Homo sapiens: one gene and its partners. The protein of the gene in region 3 interacts with the protein of the main gene of each other region in a biochemical or structural test. Each region holds a gene or a part of one and is shown on either strand. Other genes may lie near its edges. The genes, in order: MAP4K5, KIT, CRKL, WAS, PXN, PTPN11 and STAT5A.

What was found.
Region 1: the proteins of CRKL (region 3) and MAP4K5 form a complex in vitro, tested with the Homo sapiens proteins (one study listed by BioGRID).
Region 2: the proteins of CRKL (region 3) and KIT form a complex in vitro, tested with the Homo sapiens proteins (one study listed by BioGRID).
Region 4: the proteins of CRKL (region 3) and WAS form a complex in vitro, tested with the Homo sapiens proteins (one study listed by BioGRID).
Region 5: the proteins of CRKL (region 3) and PXN form a complex in vitro, tested with the Homo sapiens proteins (one study listed by BioGRID).
Region 6: the proteins of CRKL (region 3) and PTPN11 form a complex in vitro, tested with the Homo sapiens proteins (one study listed by BioGRID).
Region 7: the proteins of CRKL (region 3) and STAT5A form a complex in vitro, tested with the Homo sapiens proteins (one study listed by BioGRID).

The regions. Positions count from the first base shown.
Region 1 is NC_000014.9:50,435,070-50,438,569, forward strand, and holds part of MAP4K5 (mitogen-activated protein kinase kinase kinase kinase 5), read right to left. Parts: intron 3,026-3,500; coding exon 3,023-3,025; intron 2,940-3,022; coding exon 2,825-2,939; intron 2,466-2,824; coding exon 2,407-2,465; intron 1-2,406. UniProt on the Homo sapiens protein: May play a role in the response to environmental stress. Appears to act upstream of the JUN N-terminal pathway.
Region 2 is NC_000004.12:54,727,457-54,730,956, reverse strand, and holds part of KIT (mast/stem cell growth factor receptor Kit isoform 1 precursor), read right to left. Parts: coding exon 3,415-3,500; intron 3,135-3,414; coding exon 3,030-3,134; intron 2,947-3,029; coding exon 2,836-2,946; intron 1,623-2,835; coding exon 1,472-1,622; intron 1-1,471. UniProt on the Homo sapiens protein: Tyrosine-protein kinase that acts as a cell-surface receptor for the cytokine KITLG/SCF and plays an essential role in the regulation of cell survival and proliferation, hematopoiesis, stem cell maintenance, gametogenesis, mast cell development, migration and function, and in melanogenesis.
Region 3 is NC_000022.11:20,930,907-20,934,406, reverse strand, and holds part of CRKL (crk-like protein), read right to left. Parts: intron 629-3,500; coding exon 163-628; intron 1-162. UniProt on the Homo sapiens protein: May mediate the transduction of intracellular signals.
Region 4 is NC_000023.11:48,686,799-48,689,362, reverse strand, and holds part of WAS (actin nucleation-promoting factor WAS), read right to left. Parts: coding exon 2,408-2,564; intron 1,310-2,407; coding exon 1,267-1,309; intron 1,064-1,266; coding exon 910-1,063; intron 704-909; coding exon 297-703; intron 44-296; coding exon 1-43. UniProt on the Homo sapiens protein: Effector protein for Rho-type GTPases that regulates actin filament reorganization via its interaction with the Arp2/3 complex. Important for efficient actin polymerization. Possible regulator of lymphocyte and platelet function.
Region 5 is NC_000012.12:120,213,731-120,217,230, forward strand, and holds part of PXN (paxillin), read right to left. Parts: intron 3,387-3,500; coding exon 3,111-3,386; intron 2,852-3,110; coding exon 2,543-2,851; coding exon of another isoform or gene 2,200-2,542; intron 1,932-2,199; coding exon 1,830-1,931; intron 1,688-1,829; coding exon of another isoform or gene 1,544-1,687; coding exon 1,373-1,543; intron 1,269-1,372; coding exon 1,095-1,268; intron 488-1,094; coding exon 406-487; intron 261-405; coding exon 112-260; intron 1-111. UniProt on the Homo sapiens protein: Cytoskeletal protein involved in actin-membrane attachment at sites of cell adhesion to the extracellular matrix (focal adhesion). Recruits other proteins such as TRIM15 to focal adhesion.
Region 6 is NC_000012.12:112,449,947-112,453,446, reverse strand, and holds part of PTPN11 (tyrosine-protein phosphatase non-receptor type 11), read right to left. Parts: intron 3,130-3,500; coding exon 2,935-3,129; intron 253-2,934; coding exon 60-252; intron 1-59. UniProt on the Homo sapiens protein: Acts downstream of various receptor and cytoplasmic protein tyrosine kinases to participate in the signal transduction from the cell surface to the nucleus. Positively regulates MAPK signal transduction pathway. Dephosphorylates GAB1, ARHGAP35 and EGFR.
Region 7 is NC_000017.11:42,305,498-42,308,970, reverse strand, and holds part of STAT5A (signal transducer and activator of transcription 5A), read right to left. Parts: intron 3,362-3,473; coding exon 3,269-3,361; intron 2,731-3,268; coding exon 2,524-2,730; intron 1,570-2,523; coding exon 1,475-1,569; intron 1,379-1,474; coding exon 1,248-1,378; intron 794-1,247; coding exon 638-793; intron 1-637. UniProt on the Homo sapiens protein: Carries out a dual function: signal transduction and activation of transcription. Mediates cellular responses to the cytokine KITLG/SCF and other growth factors. Mediates cellular responses to ERBB4.

The DNA of each region.
Region 1 (3,500 bases), on a different chromosome or scaffold from region 3:
AAAGAAATAAACAAACAAAAAACCCAGACACACTCAAAATACTGAATACTTTCATTGTATCTGTTAACCAGGATGACAAGAGTGGGCAGAAAATAAAAAAAGACTGTGTCTTTTCTTTTGGCTTCATTGCCTTTTCCGTTTTACTTTCTTATCTCAATTTTAAATTATATATGTTTACTTCTAAACAACTTGCATATACTAGGTTGTTAAACATAAGAACTTTTGACAAGCACAATAACAACCTAACATGCAACCTAAAAAGGTGTTTTTTTCCCTTCCTCACTCCCTCCCGTCCTCCTTCTTTCTTTTTAAAGAGACAGGGTCTTGCTCTGTCATTCAGGCTAGAATGCAGTGGCACAGTAATAGCTAACTGCAGCCTCAATCTCCCAGGCTCAAGCAATCCTCCCACATCAGCCTCCTGAGTAGCAGAGACTATAGGTGTATGCCACCATGCCCAGCTAATTTTTCAATTTTTTTTTTTTTTAAGAGATGGGGTCTCACTATGTTTCCCAGGCTGGTCTTGAACTCCTGGACTCAACCGATCTTCCCATCTTGGCCTCCCCAAAAAGTTGTTTCTTAGTAAACTCAAAGAATGAGTTCTGACAAGGTCTAGGAGGCAACTAAAATGCACCTCGTTTTGGTATAGCAGTGTACAGATGTCTACTTAAGATGAAAATAATTCATCTTGTATGTATTAATTTATCATGATGTAATCTTGACTCAAATCTATAAAAATTCATATTGCTCTTTCCTTCTCCCAAATTTGATTTCCATTAATAATTATAATCATTGATTATAAGAATAGTTATTTGCATTAAACTCTAAAGTATTATTTATGAGTTTTTATCTTAGATTCCAAGTTTCTAGGCCTTTTGTGCATCACAGATCTTGGGAATCTGATAATAGATATTGACATGATTCTCCCTAGAAAAATAATATTTATAGCACATTTGTGGTTAAACATTTTTGTTTTACAGTATGGACTATGCTGTGAAACTATTATGTGGCACAAAGATCAATGTGTAAATTCATTGATCAAACAAAAGAATAAATAGGAAGTTAGGAACTTAAGATCTGAAGTCATTGAACCTGAATCTGATTCCTAAGCTCTGTTACTTACTAGTGACACAATCAGTATTATGGAGTTGTTTAAGGGTTAAATGAGATAATTATGTAGTAAAGAACTTAACCTCACCCAAAAAAGAGGTCTGGTCTCTGTCCTGCTTCTGGGAGGTAATTGCTAAGCCTTTGGAATGTCATGCTTGACAGGACTGTCTTTGTCTGGGGGACTCTGGTCACTGGATAATATAACAATAATGATTCAGGGTGGGGACTGGCTGCACTAGATAGTCTTAATGTGAGGGCTGGTCATGCCAGAAATACAAAAAATGTGATTTTGGGTGGGGGCTTTGGGTCATGTAACATCAGATGACCTTTAGTGGGGCTGCATACTGAGATCAGCAAGGTGGTCAATCAATCATGCCAGAAATACAAAAAATGTGATTTTGGGTGGGGGCTTTGGGTCATGTAACATCAGATGACCTTTAGTGGGGCTGCATACTGAGATCAGCAAGGTGGTCAATCAATCATGCCTTTGTGATGAAGCCCCAATAAAAACTCTGGACATCGAGGCTCGAATAAGCTTGTGGTTGGCAGTGGTTGGCAATGGTTGTGTGTTCTGCCACATACCAATGCTGGAAAAGTAACGCCATCCATTAACCATAGGGAGAGGACAACAGAAGCTCCATGTTTGGTATTTTTCCTGGACTCTGCCCTATGTACTTCTTCCCTTGGCTGATTTTAATCTATATTCTGTCCCTGTTCTAAACGGTAATGATTTTAATCTATATTCTTTCCCTGTTCTAAACGGTAATGATTTAAATCTATATTTTTTCCCTGTTCTAAATTGTAATCGTAACTATGAGTATAACTGCTTCCAGTTCCGTGATACCTTCTAGTGAATTTTTTTATTCTGGGGGTAGTTTTGGGAATCCCCTAACTTGCAATTGGTATCATAAGTGAGGGTGTTCTTGTGTGAACTGTTCCCTCTAACTGCATAGTTGGCTCAACTCCTGTAAACATGTTCATAAAACATGGGTGGTAACTGGTAGATGGCAAATATTAAATAAATGAAAGTTAGAATATTAGCAAAGATACAGCCTCAGGGACTATGGTTAAAAAACTCTAGGAACACTATGCTCTGAGAAAACGCTAAGGTTATTATCTCTAAGCATTTCTATGCCATGTCTGTCTATATTCTTGTACTTCAATGGCAGCTTAACTTCTTACTAAACACAAATTTTAAAAACCTACCCTCCTTCCTATTTGATTCCATACGACTCTTCAGATAATTATAAAGATGTTAAAAGTTCTAACCATTCAGTTTGAGAAATACCATTTACTCACCTATGCAACATTTGTGGCAGCCTTTTGTATCAGGAATCTTTGTTGTTAAAGCGAATTTTCTGAAAACGTAAGACGATATAAATGCACTCTACAGTAGTGGTTACAACACAATGATTTGTAAATCAGTTGCATCAGAATCAGACAGAAAGGAGCTTAAAAAACTGTCTTGGATCCTAACTCCACACTATCTCATCTTATAGGACTGAGGAAGGGCCTGACAGTCTGTATTATAAAACTTCCACAGTTGATTCTCATGGTCAAGTTCAGAAAACGTTCAGCTTTTCCAGATATAATACACTTTAGTTTAAACTACCTTTGAAAATTAAGACATAGTTTTTTACTGGGCAAGAAATACGGGCTATTTTTAAAATAAACACTAATTCCCCTCATTCAGTAGAATCAAAATGATATTTTGTACCTTGGTAGTATTCGGTCTGGAAACCTGTGAGTTTGAATATGGGCAGCTAATCCTGGTTTTTTGGCATGTTCAAACAAAGCTATAAGATTGTGAGAGTAGAGCTGAAAGGTTTTTCCTATAAAAGAAAAACATGTTACCTTTTTGAGAATCATTTACAGCAGAGAAATACAATTTTCGAGAAAAAGAAAACGTAATTACCTTCTAAAACGAGAGTCCAGTAATGTTCAAAAAGCCAAGCAAAATAGAAAAACACACACAAAAAAACCCTCAGTTAATACTATTTTGAAAGACAATAGATAAAATGTTTTTAAATTAACAGATAATTTTAATTCAGAATATATAAATTAGGTACTAATAGGTGATCTGGGCAGACTAAACCTTAATGATGCCAGCACACAAAAAGAAATTGTTGTACAAAATCTTATGTTATGGACTGAGTTACAATGATGTACATGTGATTATTTTAATACAAGATGGAAAATTCTATAAAGCTATATTATTATTTCTCTGGGACAGACCTATTTATCAATAACTTAACAAATTACCTTGGATTAAAAATCATTGTGAATGAAGTCTTAAATATAACAGATGGAAATACTTAAAAAAGTAAAACCAACCAATATTATAAGCCATGATACAAGGATAACAGGGCTACAATTCCATATAATAAAAAATA
Region 2 (3,500 bases), on a different chromosome or scaffold from region 3:
AGAAGAGCTTCCAAGACGTGTTATGCAGGAGGCAGAGATCGTTAACATATAGTGACTGATGGAGGAAGGTTTAAAAAAAAATCAAGTTGGTTCAGATAAACACCAATAATTTGGATGATTTTCTGAACCATCTGGACCTCTTCAATCTGCAACATTTGGCTGGAGACTCTTCAAGATTTCTAGTACTTCCTGCTTCTGATTAGCATAGAAACACCATGACAACAATCTCCTTCAGAGTGTGCTGGTGGTTCCAATCCCATATGGGATCCCAAAGCACAAAGAACATCACACAGGATTGAACAATTTAGGCCATTATATCAGAAAGTTAAAGGATATATATAGGGCCAAGGTTTCGGAAAGAAGCAAAATGGCTCATTTCTTCATATAATGAGCACATGCCCAGGAGAAACTAACAAAAAGTGGTTTTGTACAGTTTCTACTACCACTTTAAACTACTCAAGTTTATAGGATTAAAAAAAAATAAAAAGTTTCACCTGGGGTTTTAAACTTTAGCCAGAGGTACAGAAAATGGCTTTAAGGGGTAATTGCCCATCAATAATATTTACTGAGGTCTCCTTGAGGACCTGGTGTTAAGAGTTCAGGAGGCAATGTCTTGCCATTGCAAGATGCAGTGGATATAAAGTGCATGAAAAGGATAGGAGAAATCTACCACACAACTGCAGCAATATACAGTATAGGGGACTGGGCAAAATAACCATGACTTCTGTTGGACTGGGTACATCTAGGAAGTCTTCTCAAATGGTGGCCCTTAAGAGCATTTCCAAAGAAAGAATAGGCAAGATATGAGAAGAATTCTTTTCTGGTTGTAAGTCAAACTCAAAGCTCTTTATACATGATTCAAATTCAGAATGGCATCAATGATGAAAGAGATGAGAATAATGTCCAGAATTTTTAAAAAATGTGCTGGAGTAGTTATGTCTTTTAATAGCATGATGAAATAAAAAGGGCAAGAGGCAAGGTATACAGGAATAATCCAGAGGTCGATGGCAAGAAGCCTACATGTGGAGATATGTTCAGAGCTCTTTGTCATTCTGCTAAAGGTTTTAAAGGGACTTTACTGTGGCAACTTGAGAGGCTTTAGCATTTTCCCTATAAACAGTATCTCACTGGAAACATGCATGTAGTACCAAGCTCAATAGTATAAATGGAAATACATGCAGGACAGAACCGTAAGAGAAACAGATATAGAATGCATTCAGTTGCATGGAACTAAAGTGTAGAAGAAAACTGAAAATACATTTTTAAAAAATCAGCAAAAATCTAGGTTTGAATCTTTAAAAACACAATTTAACTTTCTAAACTGTTAATCACATTTAAATGATTTAATAATTTTGATTTCATACCTCAGAGTACCTCAGTTCATTTTTTAAAGAATCAGCCTTGATTGCAAACCCTTATGACCCCATGAACTGCCTGTCAACAGCTAACTATTTATGTAAATCAGTCTTACCAGGAAGACTCCTTTGAATGCAGAAGATTCTTATAAAGTGCAGCTTCTGCATGATCTTCCTGCTTTGAACAAATAAATGAATCACGTTTTCTTCTCAAAAAATTCAAAAGATCACCATAGCAACAATATTCTGTAATGACCAGGGTGGGCCCTAAAAGCACATAAGAAAAGGTTAGAAAGAAGGTGAGATATATAGATTAATTCTGCCTCCCATAAAAATACCCAAGGGTGGTCATGGCCATTAATATTCAGCTTCAGTGGATCAGACTACTTAGTCCCAATACAATCCCATATATTAACACTGCTTATCAAAAAAGCAGCCTTATGTGGAGTAACATAAAACAAGCAAGCCTCTTTTAACCTGAATTTCTAAGTGACATTAGTATTTGGAGCCAAGCATGACTGCTGGTTTTACAGAGAGAAGTTACTGCTTTCAAAGATTCTACTATTATCAAGCTTCCTACGTGAATCCTCTGGTTCACTTCTGTTTACAGCAGGGCTTCACACACTCTCTGTAACGTTATTATGGAAATAATGAAGGCACAAACTGTGGCATAGTGGGAAAATCAGCCACAAGGAGCAGCCAGCTGGGACAAGACTGGAAAGTGAGTGAAAACCTAAAATGACCTGTGTTCTGAGCGCTACTAGTTGAAAAATTTTTTGGTGCTATGAATGTTTAAACTGTAGTTTAGAAGTAACAGGCAACTAATTAACTTGGGTAAGAAATTTTCTCATGAACAATTCATGATGTGGTGAAGCAACATTTATGGGGATTATTGGAAGACATGATATAAGGCTGTCAACTTTATCGTGGATCTCCAGAAACAGCTCATTTTACACATCTTTGTTTCTTTCAACTGAAATACTTTCTGCAAACATCACAGACATCCTTGATGGGAACTTCAACTAAGGCTTCAAATTGGAAACTTATTTTTAGAGAAGTGAAATGTTTGCCTCATTTGGTGTATATTTGAGAACCAGTAGGCTTAGGCGCCTGTTTTAAATTGTAGTATGCAAATTAATATTAACCCTTTCAGTGGCTACATATGATCAAGAAATGTATAAAGCTTACAAGATAACAGAAGCCTTCTGGTCGGGATGAGATATTCAAGAGGCTGATGTCGTTGATGTTACAAATACGACAATAACTAGGGTATGTCCTGGGCTGTTCTACCCCATAATGATAAAATTAAAATCTGCATTCTTAAGAACAATGAGGAAAACAAAATCTAGCAAGAGAGAACAACAGTCTGGGTAAAAAAATCTTCCAAGCAGTTTATAATCTAGCATTGCCAAAATCATATTAAAATGTCATGTTTTGATAACCTGACAGACAATAAAAGGCAGCTTGGACACGGCTTTACCTCCAATGGTGCAGGCTCCAAGTAGATTCACAATATTCATGTGATTACCAAGGTAACTCAGGACTTTGAGTTCAGACATGAGGGCTTCCCGTTCTGTCAAATGGGCACTCGCTAAAATTGGAAACATGCATTTTAGCAAAAAGCACAACTGGCAAACTGATGTCAAGCGCATGCAGTACCATACAGGAACTTACGCTTGAGCATCTTTACAGCGACAGTCATGGCCGCATCTGACTTAATTAAGCCATAAGCAGTTGCCTCAACAACCTTCCCGAAAGCTCCAGCACCCAGGGTTTTCCCTGTAGGAAGGAAGACAACAAGGTAAGTGGTGATGGTGCTGGTGGTGGAATTGAAGGACCATTTGTGCAGTTTCAAAATCAATAAAGGAATTAAAAACAATGTTGTCCAGAGACATTTTCCTACGATGTTCTCTATGGCAAACCTATCAAAAGGGGCGCAATTTCACAGAAAACTCATTGTTTCAGGTGGAACAAAACAAAGGAAGCCACTGGAGTTCCTTAAAGTCACTGTTATGTGTACCCAAAAAGGTGACATGGAAAGCCCCTGTTTCATACTGACCAAAACTCAGCCTGTTTCTGGGAAACTCCCATTTGTGATCATAAGGAAGTTGTGTTGGGTCTATGTAAACATAATTGTTTCCATTT
Region 3 (3,500 bases):
ATAAAAAAATTTTAAAATGAAACGCTAACAGTGCGTATCTTCCAAAATCATCCAGTGCTCTAATTCCATGAATATAAGCTTAAATGAGCAGAAACTAAACTAAAACTAAAAATTAAAACCAAATGTCAAAGGACCCAAAAAGCTAATCTGAACAGATTTTACCTCTAATGCCAAGGCAGTCTTGTCATAAGCACAGGGTACTCTTTTCTGGATTGCTTTCGCAAAGACAGGTCCATTCTGTGTGGATGGCAAAGGGGTGATTGCTGCCCCAGGAGAACCGGAAACTGCAGGTAGAGGAGTTGTGGTCTGAGGTTGAGCGTATGCATGAGCAGGTTCTGGGATCCCATAACTGTTGGAATTCCTATTTCCATGCTTTCCGTGTGGTGAGGATCTCACAAGCTTTTCGACATAAGGGACAGGAATCATCCCAACCCGGCCATCCTTGTTCCGGGCACTCCACCACTGTTCTTCAGGCTTCTCTATTATCACTAGGATCTCACCCTTTTTAAAGGGCAGGTCTTCGGCATCATTCCCAGGAAAATCATACAGAGTCCGTACATATTCCAGGTTATCTTCTGCTGTAGGCAGGTTGGGTGCTGAGACAGATCCCATTGGTGGGCTTGGATACCTTAAGAGAGAAAGAAAATTACTCTAAGAGAAAAATCTTACTCTAAGCCAGTGCCTGTCAAACTTCTTAATATACCACTCTCCTCTATAATAAATTATTTTCCTTTTTTATGAGACAAGTTTTGCTCTTGTCGCCCAGGCTGGAGTGCAATAGCGTGATCTTAGCTCACTGCAAACTCTGCCTCCCAGGTTCAAGTGATGCTCCTGCCTCAGCCTCCTGAGTAGCTGGGATTACAGGCGCCCACTACCACGCCCAGGTAACTTTTTTTATTTTTAGTAGAGAAGGGGTTTCACCATGTTGGCCAGGCTGGTCTTGAACTCCTGACCTCGGGCGATCCACGCACCTCGGCCTCCCAACGTGCTGGGATTACAAGCATGAGCCACCATGCCCGGCCTCTACATTTTTTTTGGAGATGGAGTCTTGTTCTGTTGCCCAGGCTGGAGTGCAGTGGCAGGATCTCAGCTCACTGCAACCTCTGCATCCCAAGTTCAAGCAATTCTCCTGCCTCAGCCTCCTGAGTAGCTGGGACTACAGGCACATGCCACCACGCCCCGCTAATTTTTTCTATTTTTAGTAGAGACGGAATTTCACCTTGTTAGCCAGGATGGTCTTGATCTCCTGACCTCGTGATCTGCCTGCCTCGGCCTCCCAAAGTGCTGGGATTACAGGTGTGAGCCACTGAGCCCAGCCTTTTTTTTGGAGACAGAATCTTGCTCTGTCACCCAGGCTGGAGTGCAGTAGCGCAATTTCAGTTCACTGTAACCTCTACCTCCCGTGTTCAAGTGATTTTTCTGCCTCAGCCTCCCGAGTAGCTGAGATTACAGATGTGCAACACCATACCCAGCTAAATTTTGTATTTTTAGTAGAGACAGGATTTTGGCATGTTGGCCAGGCTGGTCTCAAACTCCTGCTGGCCTCATGTGATCCACCCGCCTCAGCCTCCCAAAGTGCTGTCATTACAGGTGTGAGCCACCACGCCTGGCTTTATTTTCCTTTCTATATTCTTAGTAGTTAAGAAGGTTCTATCATGTTGTAATTTTTGTAGTCTGTACTGTCCCAAAAGTTACTATTCTGAATGTCTTTTCAAATTACAAGTATACACACACACATACACTCCATCTCTGTTTTACAGAAACCTTTTGATTACACAGAGATACCTGGTTTAAATTTATTTTTATAATCTCAAGTAAGTTCGGAAGCTGCCTTCCTTTGGACCCTTGTCACAACCACCACACACTCTTCCTCCCAGTCCTAATCTATGGCTTACATCCTGCACACTTCCCTGGACACACAGAAAATGACAAAGGCCTCTGCCTCTGGCCTCTTGAAAAAAAAGGAACAAAAAAGGGCTTACAGACTTGCCAAATTAAAAATAATAAATCCACCAGGCGTGGTGGCTCAGACCTGTAATCCCAGCACCTTGGGAGGCCAAGGCAGGCAGATGACTTGGAGACCTGCCTGTCCAACATATCAAAACCCTGTCTCTACTAAACAGACAAAAAATGAGCCGGGCATAGTGGCACACACCTGCGGTCCCAGATACTCAAGAGGCTGAGGCAGGAGCATTACTTGAGCCCAGGAGTTAGAAGCTGCAGTGAGCTATGACTGCATCATTACACTCCAGCCTGGGCAACAGAACAAGACTGTCTCAAAACATAAATAAATAAGAGGCCGGCGCAGTGGCTCATGCCTGTAATCCCAGCACTTTGGGAGGCTGAGGTGGGCGGATCATGAGGTCAGGAGATCGAGACCATCCTGGCTAACACGGTGAAACCCCGTCTCTACTAAAAATACAAAAAATTAGCCGGGCATGGTGGTGGGTGCCTGTAGTCCCACTTACTCAGGAGGCTGAGGCAGGAGAACGGTGTGAGCCCGGGAGGCGGAGCTTGCAGTGAGCCAAGATTGCACCACTGCACTCCAGCCTGGGTGACAGAGCGAGACTCCGTCTCAAAAAAATAAAATAAAATAAAATAAAAATAAAAATAAATAGCTAGCAAGAGTAGTAGGAGCAAGAGTAATAATAAAGAGCTCATACTTATTATCTATGCTAGGCATGGTTTACGATCTTTGAAGAGATTGGATTATTTAATAGTCTGTGAGGTAGATGCTGTTATTATCCCCATTTTACAAATGAGGAGCCAAAGAAGAGGTTAGACTTGCACTCAGGGAGTCTGGTTCTAAACTCTTCACTCATAATGAGCTAATCAGCCTTAGGGACGAACCCTGCATCTGTCAGGTGTATGAGAATTAATGGCATAATGCATGTGAGGCATTCAAAATTACCGAGCAGCACCAAGCATCCAATGTACCGACATGAACACACACATACCCCTTCAAGTATATCCCTGCTTCTATTTCTTTCTCTTTTTTTTGAGACAGGGTCTTGCTGTCATCCTGGCTGGAGTGCAGAGTGGCACAACCACAGCTCACTGTAGCCTCCACTTCCCAAGCTCAAGTGATCCTCCCACTTCAGCCTCCTGAGTAGCTGGGACTACAGGCAGTTGCCATCACACACAGCCAATTTTTAAATTTTCTGTAGAGATGGGGGTCTCACTATGTTTTCAGGGCTTGTCTTGAACTTCTAGCCTCAAGCAATTCTCTCGCCTTGGCCTCCCAAAGTGTTGGGATTACAGGTGTGAGCCATCACACCCAGCCCCTGCTATTTCAAGAGCCACAGAGAGCCTGTGAACAGTCCAGTAAGTACCATATAAATTTCAGACACTATTAAGAGCACAGTCAGTTCCACCTTAGACTCCATCCAAGAGTATTTTATTATTTGTATAGTTAAAAGCAGTTAGCCAGTGTGTGGTGGCTCACGCCTGTAATCCCAGCACTTTGGGAGGCTGAGGTGGACGGATCACAAGGTCAGGAG
Region 4 (2,564 bases), on a different chromosome or scaffold from region 3:
GAGGTGGTGGCTGCAGCGCTGAGCTCTCTGGGGCCCCAGGGGTCTGCAGCAGGCAGGGATCAGCACAGAGGGCTTAGGGCCTGGGAAAGGAGCATTTCTCCCCGCCCCTCCATCAATATTTTCTCTCCCACACACTCCAGTCCCCTTCAAGGCTTCCCACCAACCTTTCAACCCTATCACTGAATCCCTAAGGCCTGGCACTCTCCTCAGTCCTGGCCTCAGCCCCCCAGTATCCTGACTTAGACGGGACACCCCAGAGTCCTAGACCCCCAATCCTCCATCCTGCCTGTCCTCACCTTGTTCAGCTGAATTCCCTGCCGGATTTGATCCAAAAGCGCTCCCCGACCCCCACCAGGGGCCAGGCCCCCGGCAGGCACCAGAGCAGGAGGGAGTGGGGGAGGGGCTGGTCCATTCCCGGAGCTGGGCGGCGGTGGCGGTGGTGGCGGTGGTGGTGGCATGGGTGGCCCACCAGCTCCAGGGGGTGGAGGGGGCAGTGGTCCAGAACGTCCAGTAGCTGGAGGGGGTGGTGGTGGAGGGCCCCCTCGGCCTGGGGGTGGGGGTCCCCGGGGTGTTGGTGGGGGTGGGGCAATCCCCAAAGGTACAGGGGGCAGTGGACCAGAACGACCCTTGTTACCCCCCACAATAGGGGGCCGGGGGAGCTGGTTCCCTCCTCGAGATGGCGGTGGGGGCGGCGGAAGTGGCTCTGTGGAGGGGGTATAACACATAGCTGTAACTCTCATTGATTTCTTCTGAGCCTCAGTTTTGCTCATTTGTAAAATGGGTACCCCCACTGACCAACTCCTGACTGAAGCAGTATAGGTGCTCCCATAAGGACTGAGTGACTTAGTGCGTATCTTAGCTATGAGCTGCTTGGGCTAGAGAAGGGAGCGTATGGAAGCAGGGTCTCACCCTGGCGCCTCATCTCCTGCCGCACAGCCTCCAGCCCACCCTGGTCCTCAATGAAGTCGTAGATAAGTTTAGAGGTCTCGGCGTCGGTGAGCTGGGCCTCGCTGATTCCTGCCCTGGAGAACAGACTCCGCAGATCTGGGTCGAGGTTGTTCACCTGCCCAGGAGGAAAAAGGCCAGGGGCAGGAGTAGAGGAATAAGGCGAGGAGACAAGCGACATGGATTGTCGTTGGGTCCATCCCAGCAAGGGATCTGAGAGGGGTGTGGGAAGGGCACGATCTGGGGGTGGGGTCTCAGCAGTGGTCTTTGGAAGGGTGGGTGGAAGTTTAGTGGAGTCCAAGAGACTCTGAAGTTACTCACGTCAAATCCATTCTGGGGGTCCCACCCCACGTGGCTGACATGCCTGGGAGAGGTGAAGAGACTCCAGTGAATCCTCACTGCCCTTCCTTCCCTCCCTTCATAGTGAAACCCTCTTGCCCTCTCCTGCCCAAAGAGACTCTGAGGGGCCAGAATTAATGAATGAGACTGAATGAGTGAATGAGTATAGGCAGGAGTTATGGAATTAGAAGGGCTCCATAGTTTGTGGTGCTGATCCATCCACCCATCCCTCTTTCCCCATCTATCCCATGCATTTGTCCACCTATTCATTCACATTCATCTGTTGGACTACTGATCTGTCCATACATCTGTCTCTGCAACTATCTGCCCACATATGTCTGTTCACCCATTTGTCCACCAGTCTGTCCTCACACACACTTGTCCATCCACCCATCCACCTACCCATGTGCCCACCTTTCCATCTATCCATCCACTCATTTTTCTACCCATGCAACCACACACTTCTGTTCACTTATCCATTGAACTGTCCATTCATCCACGTATCTGTCCACCTGTCCATCCCCATCCACCTTGTCTGTGAGCCAATCAGCCTGCATATCAATCTGTCCACACACCTATCCACTCACCCATCTATCTATCCACGCACCTCCCATCAACCCATCCACCCATAAACTTGTCCATCCAACCACTTATCCATTCATTCTTCAACCCATTCATTCATCCATTCATTTATCCATCCATCCACCCATCCACTCACCCACCTACCCACCAGCCCTTCTCATCCATCATCTACCTCATCTATCTATCCATTTGTTCACCTGCCCACCCACCTGCTCTCCTAACAGCCCACCCAGAGTGGGCCCAGGGTGAGGCAAGTAAGGTGCCTAGGGTGCAAAATTTAAGTGAGTCACTCACTCTGAGAGTCAGGAATTACAGTTGCATGCCTCTGAGAGTGAGTGCCTCCTTAAATTTTGTACCCTTGGTGCCTTATTTACCTCTCCCTAGACCCAGCCCTGCACCTACCTATCCAACCACCCATTTACCCACTCAGCCACCCAGCCATCTGCCCATCTGCCCATCCTTCCATTCACTCAGCTGTCCACTTGTTCATGTGCCCCTCTGCCCCCAGGAATCTGTGGGTCCACTGGGGAGTGGCTCTCACTTGAATCCACTGGGTGCACCAATATCAGCTTTGCTGATCTTCTTCTTCCCTGAGCGTTTCTTATCAGCTGGGCTAGGTCCAGGTGCTGGGAGCCCACGGTATCGTGAACTCGTGATGTCAGGGTTCTGGATGTCCACTGTCGCCAGCCCCAGGGAGA
Region 5 (3,500 bases), on a different chromosome or scaffold from region 3:
AATAACCCCAAATGAGGCCTCTGAGTTGGATCCAGACAGCACAATGAGGAAGACCCCTCTCTCCCCACTGCCTGCTCCTCGCCCCTCCAGATGTGGTCAGGGGCTCCTTACCCGGCACACAAAGCACTCAGGATGCCACAGCGTGTTGAGGGCTGAGATATAGTTCTCCAGGATGGCCCGGGCGCAGCCGCCACACTTGGGTGCGAACATGTCGAAGTAGTCCTTGCGACAGTAGGCCTTGCCGTCCTTCTCGTGGAACCCTGGGGAGCGGGGGTTTTGGAGGCACAGTTCATTCCGGCTTCCAGAAGTGGAGCCACTCTGACTCCAACCTCAGCAGCGTCTCCCACCCCCACCTCCCCGGCCCTCCTAAGAGGCGGTGGGTCAGTCCGCCGGTCCAGCCCGTACCTTCGGGACCAAAGAAGGCTCCACACTGTGCACAGAAGAAGTGTTCAGGGTGCCACGTCCGGTCAAGGGCTGTCACCACTTTCTGTGAAAGCAAAATGTGGGATCAAGGCTGAGCTCTGGGCAGATCTCACAACTGAGACGCCCAGCAAGGCCGTCCTTCCACCCGCAGCTCATAGCCATAGACAGAGCAAAACACTCCCAAGATGGGGGTCTCTCCTAATTGTGCTGTGAATGCCTCTAAGAATTCAGAGTTACTCAGGATGGGACAAGCCAGACACATACCCTCTCCTCTACTCCTCACCCCAAGTAGAGGGCACAAGTTCTATGACTCCCATTTTATAAGTGAAGAAACATAGGCTCAGAGAGGCCAGGCATTTCCTAAGTTCACAGAGAGGGAGAGTGAGGCCGCTGGCATCCAACTCCATTTATCTCCTCAGGGCTCCTGAGTCCTGGGAGTCTCCACAGAAAGGAATCGAGATGGGAGGTGAAGGGAGGTGGGGCTGCCCGATGCACATCGGGACAGGCTGTGGTTCAGGTGTGGCTGTGAATCCGGCCCCACTGTTCCCTAGCCCTGTGAGCCTCGGGCATGTGACCTCTCTGAGCCTCCCACGGCACCCCCTGCATCCTCAGAGGGCTGCGGTGAAGCTGGAATGAGCGGAAGCGGGCGCGGTGCCGGATGAGGAACTCACATCCAGGATGGGGCCGTTGCAGTAGTAGCAGCGCGGGGAGAAGAGGTTGTGGTAGTCCTTTTCACAGTAGGGCTGTCCATCCCGCTCGAAGAAGTTCCGGGATCCGATCTCCTCCTGGCAGTGGGTGCAGACGAAGTGCTCGGGGTGCCACGTCTTCCCCATGGCGGTCACAACCTGAGGAGGAGATGGAATGCGGTCCAGGGCCAAGGCCAGCCCCGGAGCACCCCCACCCCTGCAGGAGTCCACTGGCCACACCCCTGCCCACTCCCCCTCATCACCTGCCCGGCGATGGGCTTCTTGCAGGCCCCGCAGACTCCTTTGGCGACTGTGGCGACCCCCAGCTTGTTCAGGTCAGACTGCAGGCTCCCCAGCATGCTGTCCAGCTGGCTCCCGGGCTTCGGGGGCCCCCCAGGGGGTGAGCTGCTCCCTGTCTTCCCCTGGGCCATGAACTGTGGACACGGAGGGGGCTGGTCAGGACTCCTGAGGCTCGGGGTACGGTGTCTGGCAGCACAGGGATGGGGGTACTTTTCTCCCTCCTGGACAGATGAGCTGATGGAGACAAGAAGTACAACCTCCTCCAGGGGCCAGGAGCCCTAAAGTGGGAGTGACGTCAGCAGGACTCCTGGTGGTCGGAGGGGCCCACCAGGGTCGGAAAGGCTGAGGGCACCCAGCAGGCATGGCCAAGCCCAGGGAGAGCACGACACGCAGGACACCCAGCCCAGCCTTGGCACTGACCCCTCCCTCGTCCTGCCCTCCGGGGCTGCTCCGCCCGCCGTCCCGAGGCCAGCCGGCCGCCCAGCACCGCTCCCCATCCGCTCTTTGCTCCAGGCCCTGGATCTTAGATAGGGGAAGAGATGAGGGTAAGAAATCTTTTTTAAAAATTAAGAAAGAATACAAGACCTTGTCACTGGACTAAAAGGGAATCTAGGATGAGATCTGAGGGTTTCTCCCCCACCGGCAGGACCAAAATTGGGGGAAAAAATCTGGAGAAAAAGAGCCCTGAGAGAGAGGCCTAGGGAGAAAGGAAGAAGGACAGGGAGGGGAGTCGACCAAAGGCAGAGGAAATGGCAAGGGGAGGTGGCCGGGCTCAGTGATGAGGCCTCACCGGGCGCTGGGCCTGGGGGCTGGAAGGGAGGAGACAGGTTTCTGGTCTCCCTTCTGGAGTGGCTTCTTTCCTCGATGGGAGCCCGGGGCAGTACTGAGGACCAGTCGAGGAAGGAGCAGACATGGGTGGACCCACAGAAAAGCAAGAGGGCAGCGGACCTTCTGAGTGGGGGAAGACCGGGGTCAAGGTTTACGGCAGGACTGTGGTTACTGTGCTGGGGCTTGTAGATGGAGGGATGGAGGGTATCTGTGTATGTGTGTGTGCACGTGTGTGTGTGCAGAGTGGGGGATGGCTCAGGCATTAGGACAGGGGACAGAAAGGGAGGGGCTCCTTTAAGGCCTGCCTGCATCGGGGGGAAGAGCGGGTCCTCATCAGTCTGGCAGCCCACGGACCTCATGGTGTGGGGTGCAGGAATGGGAAGGGCAGGGCCCTGCACCCCCTCATCATGGGGCTCTTCCCCTGCACTCTGGACCCCAGAAGAACCACAGGTATAAGCTGAGGGCCCCAGGGGGGAGGAGGCGAGCAGGCTGGGCAGGGGAGAAGAGCTGCTGGCCGCGGCGTCTGTGCGATGCTGGAGCAAAGGGACAGAAGGAGAAGCCAGGACAGAGATGGTTCTTCTCAGGGGAATGGGAGAGCCAGGAGGGAAGACAACCTGGGGAGAAGAAAGGAGGGAGAGCGATGAGGAAGAAATCGCCAGCTCAGCCCACAGGGGTGGCGGGACCTCCCCAGGCTCCCCCTGGGCCTTCCCACTCTGCACCAAGAGTGGGGCCAGTCTTCCAAAGTCACAGGAGGCAAGAAACCCCCACCCTCTCCCCAGATCTCCCCTCCGGCCAGCACTGGGGCCAGGGAAGAACCCGGACCCCAGGTGCTTGGCTCTGGCCCAGCCCCAGCCATGGGCATCTCCTCGCCACCTTCTCTACGAGCTGCCCCCCGGCCCGCTTCCCACGTGGCTGCACAGTGATGATGACGCCCTCGGTCAGCCAGTCCTGGGCAGAGGGCCCCGCCGCCTCCGCCGGCTCCTCTGCCTCAGGCTGGATGCCCAGCCGCCCCTGCAGCTCCGCGATGAGCTGTTCCTGGGATGGGGTCCTGCTCAAGGTGGCAGGGTCCAGCCGGCGGCGAGGGGAGGGCTCCCGGGACATGGGGTGTGCGTGGCCAGACTCCCAGCTCCTCCTGATCACAGATCGGATCTAGGGGGAGGGGGAGGGGAGGCTGTCACCGTCCCACTCCCAGCTTGCACAACGCTGCTCAGGCCACACTCAGATGCCTCAGGAGAGGGAGCACAAAAGAAAACCACCAAAGAA
Region 6 (3,500 bases), on a different chromosome or scaffold from region 3:
GCAGAAAAATCACCCAAAGGTAACATCTTGCCAGACCCATTTTTCAACTGGAGATTTACCTGACAGCGAATCATAACATGGGTCACTTTAGACTTGCCGTCATTGCTCTCCCCTTTGTCATCACCAGTGCGCACAGAAAGAACAAAATCTCCAGGGTGGCTCTGGCTCTCTCGTACAAGAAAACTACCATGTTTTCCTTTTTCAGTTAATAATTTCTCTGCTTCTTTCCCAGAGAGATGTCCATGAAACCACCTAAAGTTTTTAAAAAATAAAAAAGAATTTAGCTCTACTATGGGTTCATGTTGTTCTTTCACAAAACTACTGTATACAGTCAGCTCTCCTAAACACAATTAAAAAGTAGACACATTCCTCCAAGGGATTGATCAATCCCACCTGAGACAGAAAATCTGCATCCCATGCAGGCAGGAAAAACCACAAAGATGGTAAGAATGACCACTAAACTTCTTAAATGAGTCCACAGTCCTTTAGAGACAAATGCCCCAATCTTTCCTGTTTTTTTTTAAATCCCTCCTCTTTTAAAAATGCAATTTGCCATTCGTCCATTGCCCAATCTTAAAAGGACCAACTGTTTAATTATAGCCATTTAAAGAAGTTACAGGCCATGCATAGTGGCTTATGCCTGTAATCCCAACACTTTGGAAGGCCAAGGCAGGAAGATCACTTGAGGCCAGGAGTTCAAGACCAGTCTGGGCAACACAGTGAAATCCCCATCTTCACAAAACAATTAAAAATTAGCCTGGCATGGTGGCAACTGCCTGTAATCCCAGCTATACACAAGGCCGAGGCAGGAGGATCACTTGAGTCCAGGAGGTCGAGGCTGCAGTGCGCTATGATCATGCCACCGCACTCCAGCTTGGGTGACAGAGCAAGACCCTGTCTCAAGAAAAAAAAATAAAAGTCGGCCGGACGTGGTGGCTCATGCCTGTAATCCCAACACTTTGGGAGGCCGAGGCAGGTGGATCACCTGAGGTCAAGAATTCGAGACCAGCCTGACCAACATGGTGAAACCCTGTCTCTGCTAAAAATACAAAATTGGCCGGGTGTGGTGGCAAGTGCCTGTAATCCCAGCTACTCAGGAGGCTGAGGCAGGAGAATCACTTGAACCTGGGAGGCGGAGGTTGCAGTGAGCTGAGATCGCACCATTGCACTCCAGCCTGGGTGACGAGCGAAACTCCATCTCAAAAAAAATAAATAAATAATTTGTAAAAATAAAGTCAAAATAAAGAAGTTGTAATAAAAAGTTGTAATAGAGACAGGCACGGTGGCTCACGCCTATAATCCCAGCACTTTGAGAGGTCAAGGTGGGCGGATCACCTGAGTTCAGGAGTTTGAGACCAGCCTGGCAAACATGACAAAACCCTGTCTCTACTAAAAATACAAAAATTAACTGGGCATGGTGGCACATGCCTGTAGTCCCAGCTACTCGGGAGGCTGAGGCAAGAGAATTACTTGAATCTGGGAGGCGGAGGTTGTAGTGAGCCGAGATCGCGTCACTTGACTCCAGCCTGGGTGACAGAGTGAGACTCCATCTCAAATAAATAAATTAAAAAAAAGAAAGAAAAAGTTGTAACAGAGACAGAAAATCATTTTGAATGTTTGTCCTTGCCTTGGCATGTGAACACTCAATTAAAAAGGATCTTCATTATAAATTAATTCAAACATTCCAACCTTTTCCATATATACAACCTATACTTCAACAGCCTCCAGTGTCTTTGGACTATATCCTGGGTGATCATCTCAAACTGTATAATGCACATAAGACTTGGAGTAAAAATGAGGGATTTTGCTAAAAATATGAATTCCCAGGCTCCACAACCAGCAATATCAATACATGTAAGTCTGAATGAGGCCCAGGAATCTGCATTTTAACCAGCACATCAGACAGTCCTGATGTAGGCATCCAAAGCCATCCAAGGACAGACTTTGAGACAATACTGCTCCATGTTTTTTGGGAAGCATCTTAACATAGTTCTAATAATAAAGTGGCTTTTTCCCTCAGGATCTTGGTCAGAAAGCAAGTACTATCATGGCAGGTGGTGTTAAGGGCTCATCATCAAAAGAATAAACTTTGAGTTATTCTTCATCCATACTCAACTGAAAACAGTAAAATTTAGAAATAAACTGTACAGAGTTGGCTGACAGCCTTTTGCCTGAAGCTACGGTGGTAGCTAGAGAAACAAATTATCAGCACATAATAGCACTGACATAAAGGTATAAGCTGAAAAAATCATACCTGAAGACACAAAATATACAAACTAACTAAGAGATCCTGAATTTGCACCAAGTCAGAGAGGAGATTGGGAATGTACAAAACGAATACAATCAATAAATAAGTCAAGCCCATGCTTTCATCAGCCTAGTTCCAACACAGGGGGAAAGATCTCGAAAATAACATAATTTTCTCTAAGCAAGGTCATTCTCACATAATTGTGGTGATAACATTAAAAGAACTGATGAAAAAGCTGACCCTCTGAGCTCTCTGCTTTTCCACTTCTGAGCTTAAACTGACATCTGTTGGTGACATTGCTGAATAACTGGTCGAGAGCCACCATAGAAAACTGCTGCTATTTTGGTGTCTCCATTATCATTTGTTTTCCTCTAATAACTCTCAAAGATTATCTGCTGAAGTTCAATAAGTCTTAAAACTAATACACGTACCAAGTATATGCAGGAATGGTATGCAACCCCTATAGGATGAGTGTAAGTAACACTGATTAAAACTTTTGCAGGAAAAAGGTACTCTGAAAATAATTTGATGCTATTAGTCTCACTTTAGTAATTCTTTAAAGATTACAGCTCAAAAAACAGTCACAAGCCTTTGGAGTCAGAGAGTCATACACAGACCGTCATGCATTTCTGACACTCAGGGCACAAGGGAGCAGCAGACTTTGTGGTCACTAAAATGTTACTGACCTTTCAGAGGTAGGATCTGCACAGTTCAGAGGATATTTAAGCTCAATGACATCTCCATTCTTCTCTTTTAATTGCCCGTGATGTTCCATGTAATACTGGACCAACTCAGCCAAAGTGGCAAATTTCTCCCCTCCATACAGGTCATAGTAATCACCAGTGTTCTGAATCTTGATGTGGGTGACAGCTCCATTTCTTCTAAAATAGTCCATTGGAAAGGGAGGCAAGGGGACAAATAAAGAGTTACACCAGTAAAATCAGATCTCATCTTCCACGTCGGATTTTACCTAAGTGTTGAAAGAAACCCAAGGAACGAATTTACCTATTCCCTATAAGAAATACGATGGGTGAAATAACCACATGTCAACCAACTCAACACAAAGGTCTTTATTAGTATCTTTACCTTGCATATCTTTTTTTTTTTTTTTTGAGATGGAGTTTCGCTCTTATTGCCCAGGCTGGAGTGCAATGACGTGATCTCGGTTCACCGCAACCTTCGCGGTGGATTTACATACATTATAAATCCAGGTTCAAGTGATTCTCCTACCTCAGCCTCCCAAGAAGCTGGG
Region 7 (3,473 bases), on a different chromosome or scaffold from region 3:
AGTCTCCCTCCTGCTCACATCACCTTGTGTTCTCAGCTGGGATGAGATTTCCCAAGGACCCCCAATAAACACCAGCTGATGAATCCTGCCTGAGGGTCACTGAGACCCCTGGCTTGAATCCCATTCCTTCTGGTTCTTTTTCTGGCCATCTGATTTCCCTCTCCCTGCTCCCACCCCTGTCAAAGAATGAGAATCAACAAGCAAACCCAACCAATGGATTTGGGGCAGCTGGAAGAAGAGAGACTTCTCCCTTTTGCTGCCTGCACTCCACTCGGGGGAAGGTTTGTGAGCAGGGTGTGGAGAGCAGCTGGTGAGGTGGGGAGCGGAGCACTATCTGTGGGCTCGAATGATCCCGGCCACTCCCTACAGTGCTGCCACCCCTTCCTCCGAGGGTGCAGAAGTGAGAATCCATGCAGCTTTCACTTTGCAGAGAAGAGAGCTGGGACGGGTTTCTCGTTCCCTCTCCTCATTTGTGAGCCCTGAAATCCTCTCCACCACCCCATGGGCCAAAACCCACAGGGGACATGGCCCCTAGGCTCCTCCTGGGGAAGTCCCCACGGCGCAGCCCAAGGCTTTGTCTATGGGCTGGGGAAGAGCCCGGGGGAGTCAGCCGGCAGGGTCCTGGGGCAGTACCCACCCAGCACAGGAGTGTAGTACTTGGAGAAGACCTCATCCTTGGGGCGGTCAGGAAACACATAGATGAGATAGCTCAGGTCCCCCAGCCGGTCAGCCAGGGACCTGATGGAGAAATCCCGCGTGGTGAATGGTTTCAGGTTCCACAGGTTGCGTTCCGCTGTGAAAAGAACAGCCTCATTCCCATAATCCACCAGCAGCAGGAGGACCAAGGTTGTGGGGCTTTAGGGCAGGCTTGCAAGAGAAATCTGGGCTTTTATATAGTAGCTTGCGCTGCAGCCCCAGCCTGTAGGGAAGAAAGCCGATGCGGGATGTTCTACTCAGCAAACCAGATGAGCAGATACCAACAAGGCTGGGTCGTGGCAGAGAGGGGAGAGCGTGAAACTGCAGGAGGACTCGCCCAGCCGTCCTGGAGTCTATGGGGCTGGGGACTTCAGGTTCTCCAAAATGGAAAACAATAGAAAGAGAATACATTTCCAAGCCACAGCCCTCTCATACTAAGCTTCCCGCTGGGTACCTTCTAAGGACACAGGCCCGATGGAGGGTGGGGTGGCGGGGCAAGGGAACAAGAGACCGGGCCTTGGGGCTGGAGTGTGGGCAAAACGGGCACTCACGGGAGTCAAACTTCCAGGCGATGGTGATGCCCCCGATTTCTGAGTCACTAAAGCGCAACAAGAAGGTCCCGTCGGGCTTGTTGATGAGCAGGTCGTGGGCCTGTTGCTTATTCACAAAACCTAGGATGGCCCTGGGTGCACGGAGCATTGAGCGTCACCACTGGGCCACAGCCACAGTCTCTCTGCGCCCACAGCTGGCCCCTGACCCTGCAGCCCCCGTTCCTTACCCATCATTCCAGTGGGGCTTGTGGTGCTTCTTCAACACCTCCATCACCCCGTCAAACCACTGCCAGAAGGTGTAGTTCCAGCCCGGCAAGTTCTCCTGAGGGCCCAGGAACCCCCGAGTCAGGGCTGGTGCCCCAGGTCACAGGTGGCCCAGGAAAGTCAGGGCCCTCCTGCCCCCACCCAGTCTTCTCCCAGTTCTTCACCCCTGCTTGCCACCACACTCCAGCAGACCATAAAGTGACACAGCCCCCAACTTGTACCCTAGGAAAACAGAGAGGAAACTCACTTCTAAGACACAGGGGTCCAAGACCAGCCCAAGGGTGGGAGTAAGAGGTGTAAAGAATAATCTAGGCTGGATGGGGCCTCCAAAGTCATTCCTCCAAAGTCATCCCCTCATTTTACAGGTGGGGAAACTGAGGCACAGAGAATGGATGGGTCTTCAAAAATTAGCAAGGAGAGAGGCAGAAGGAGAGCCAGAGCCACAGGCGTGGTGGCTCACGCCTGTAATCCCAGCACTTTGGGAGGCCGAGGTGGGCGGATCACCTGAGGTCAGGAGTTCGAGACCAGCCTGACCAACATGGTGAAACCCCATCTCTACTAAAAATACAAAAATTAGCCCAGCATGGTGGCAGGCACCTATAATTCCAGCTACTCAGGAGGCTGAGGCACGAGAATCACTTGAACCCGGGAGGCAGAGGTTACAGTAAGCTGAAATCACGCCACTGCACTCCAGCCTGGGTGACAGAATGAGATTCTGTCTCTAAAAAAAAAAAAGAAAATTAGCAAACACATCTAGGCCCAGAACCCAAGGATCCTGACTCCCAGCCCTGGGCCCTCCGTCATCTCGCTCTTGGCTTCACAACTAAGCACAACTCCTATAGCCCCTGCCTGCATTTCTTGAGGCTAGGGGCCCCCATCTCTCCTGGTTGTAGGAGAGAGTGGTTGGGGGTGGAGAGTGGGGTGCTAGCCCCAGGCAGTAACCTGTCTGTGAGGTGGAGGAGCAACAGACCCCGGTGGGCCCTGGTGGGCGGCTGGCAGCTGGGCCCCTCACCCTGTTGAACTGGGACCAGGACACGGACAGGCCACTGTAGTCCTCCAGGTGGCTGCTGCTGTTGTTGAACAGTTTCTGCGCCAGGAACACGAGGTTCTCCTTGGTCAGGCCCCGGTTGCTCTGCACTTCGGCCTTGAATTTCATGTTGAGCGCCTCACACAGCTGCGGCCACAGCACTTTGTCAGGCACGGCAAATGGCACCCTGCCCTGAGAGGGAGACAAGAGAGGGGAAAAGGTAGATTGAGGGAGTTGGAAATATTCACACACACACAAGATACACAGACACCTAGAGACAGAGGAGACTGAGACAGATCCAGAAAGGTGACACAAATGCAAGGGCAGGAAATGCGGCGGCTTTTATATACTAGCTTGCACTTTTTTTCCCAGCCTGCAGGGAAGAAAACCGATGCAGGGGGTGGGGGCATGCAGGGACAGAGATGCAGACCAGGAAACAGAAAACAGAGAGCAAGGACCCAAGCCATCTGCCAAAGGAGGATCCCAGACCAGGATCCAAAGACCAAGCTCACAGTCCTCACAGACCCCAGTCCAGGAACCTGGAACCCAGAGTGCCAAGGCCATGGTGGAAGGCAGGCGCCCAGCACCCCAGCCCTTCTGGCCTCACCTCACCTCTGGGCTGGCCCTGGGGTGAGGAAGGACCACTCAGCAGGGGCCCAAGGGGTGGGGCTGACCCCAGGTGAGTCCTAGGGCCTGGGGGTGCTGGGGTAGGGCTCCCACGGGGACTCACCGGCTCAGCAAAGGCATTGTCCCACAGCACAGTAGCCGTGGCATTGTGGTCCTGGCTGCCGTGGACGATGACAACCACAGGTAGGGACAGAGTCTACAGGAGTCAAAGGAACCCAAGTTGATGGGGCGTGACCACCACGTGCCCTCTGCTTAGGCAACATGCCCAATCTGCTTTATTTTTTTTTATGTATTTTTTTTTTTGATAT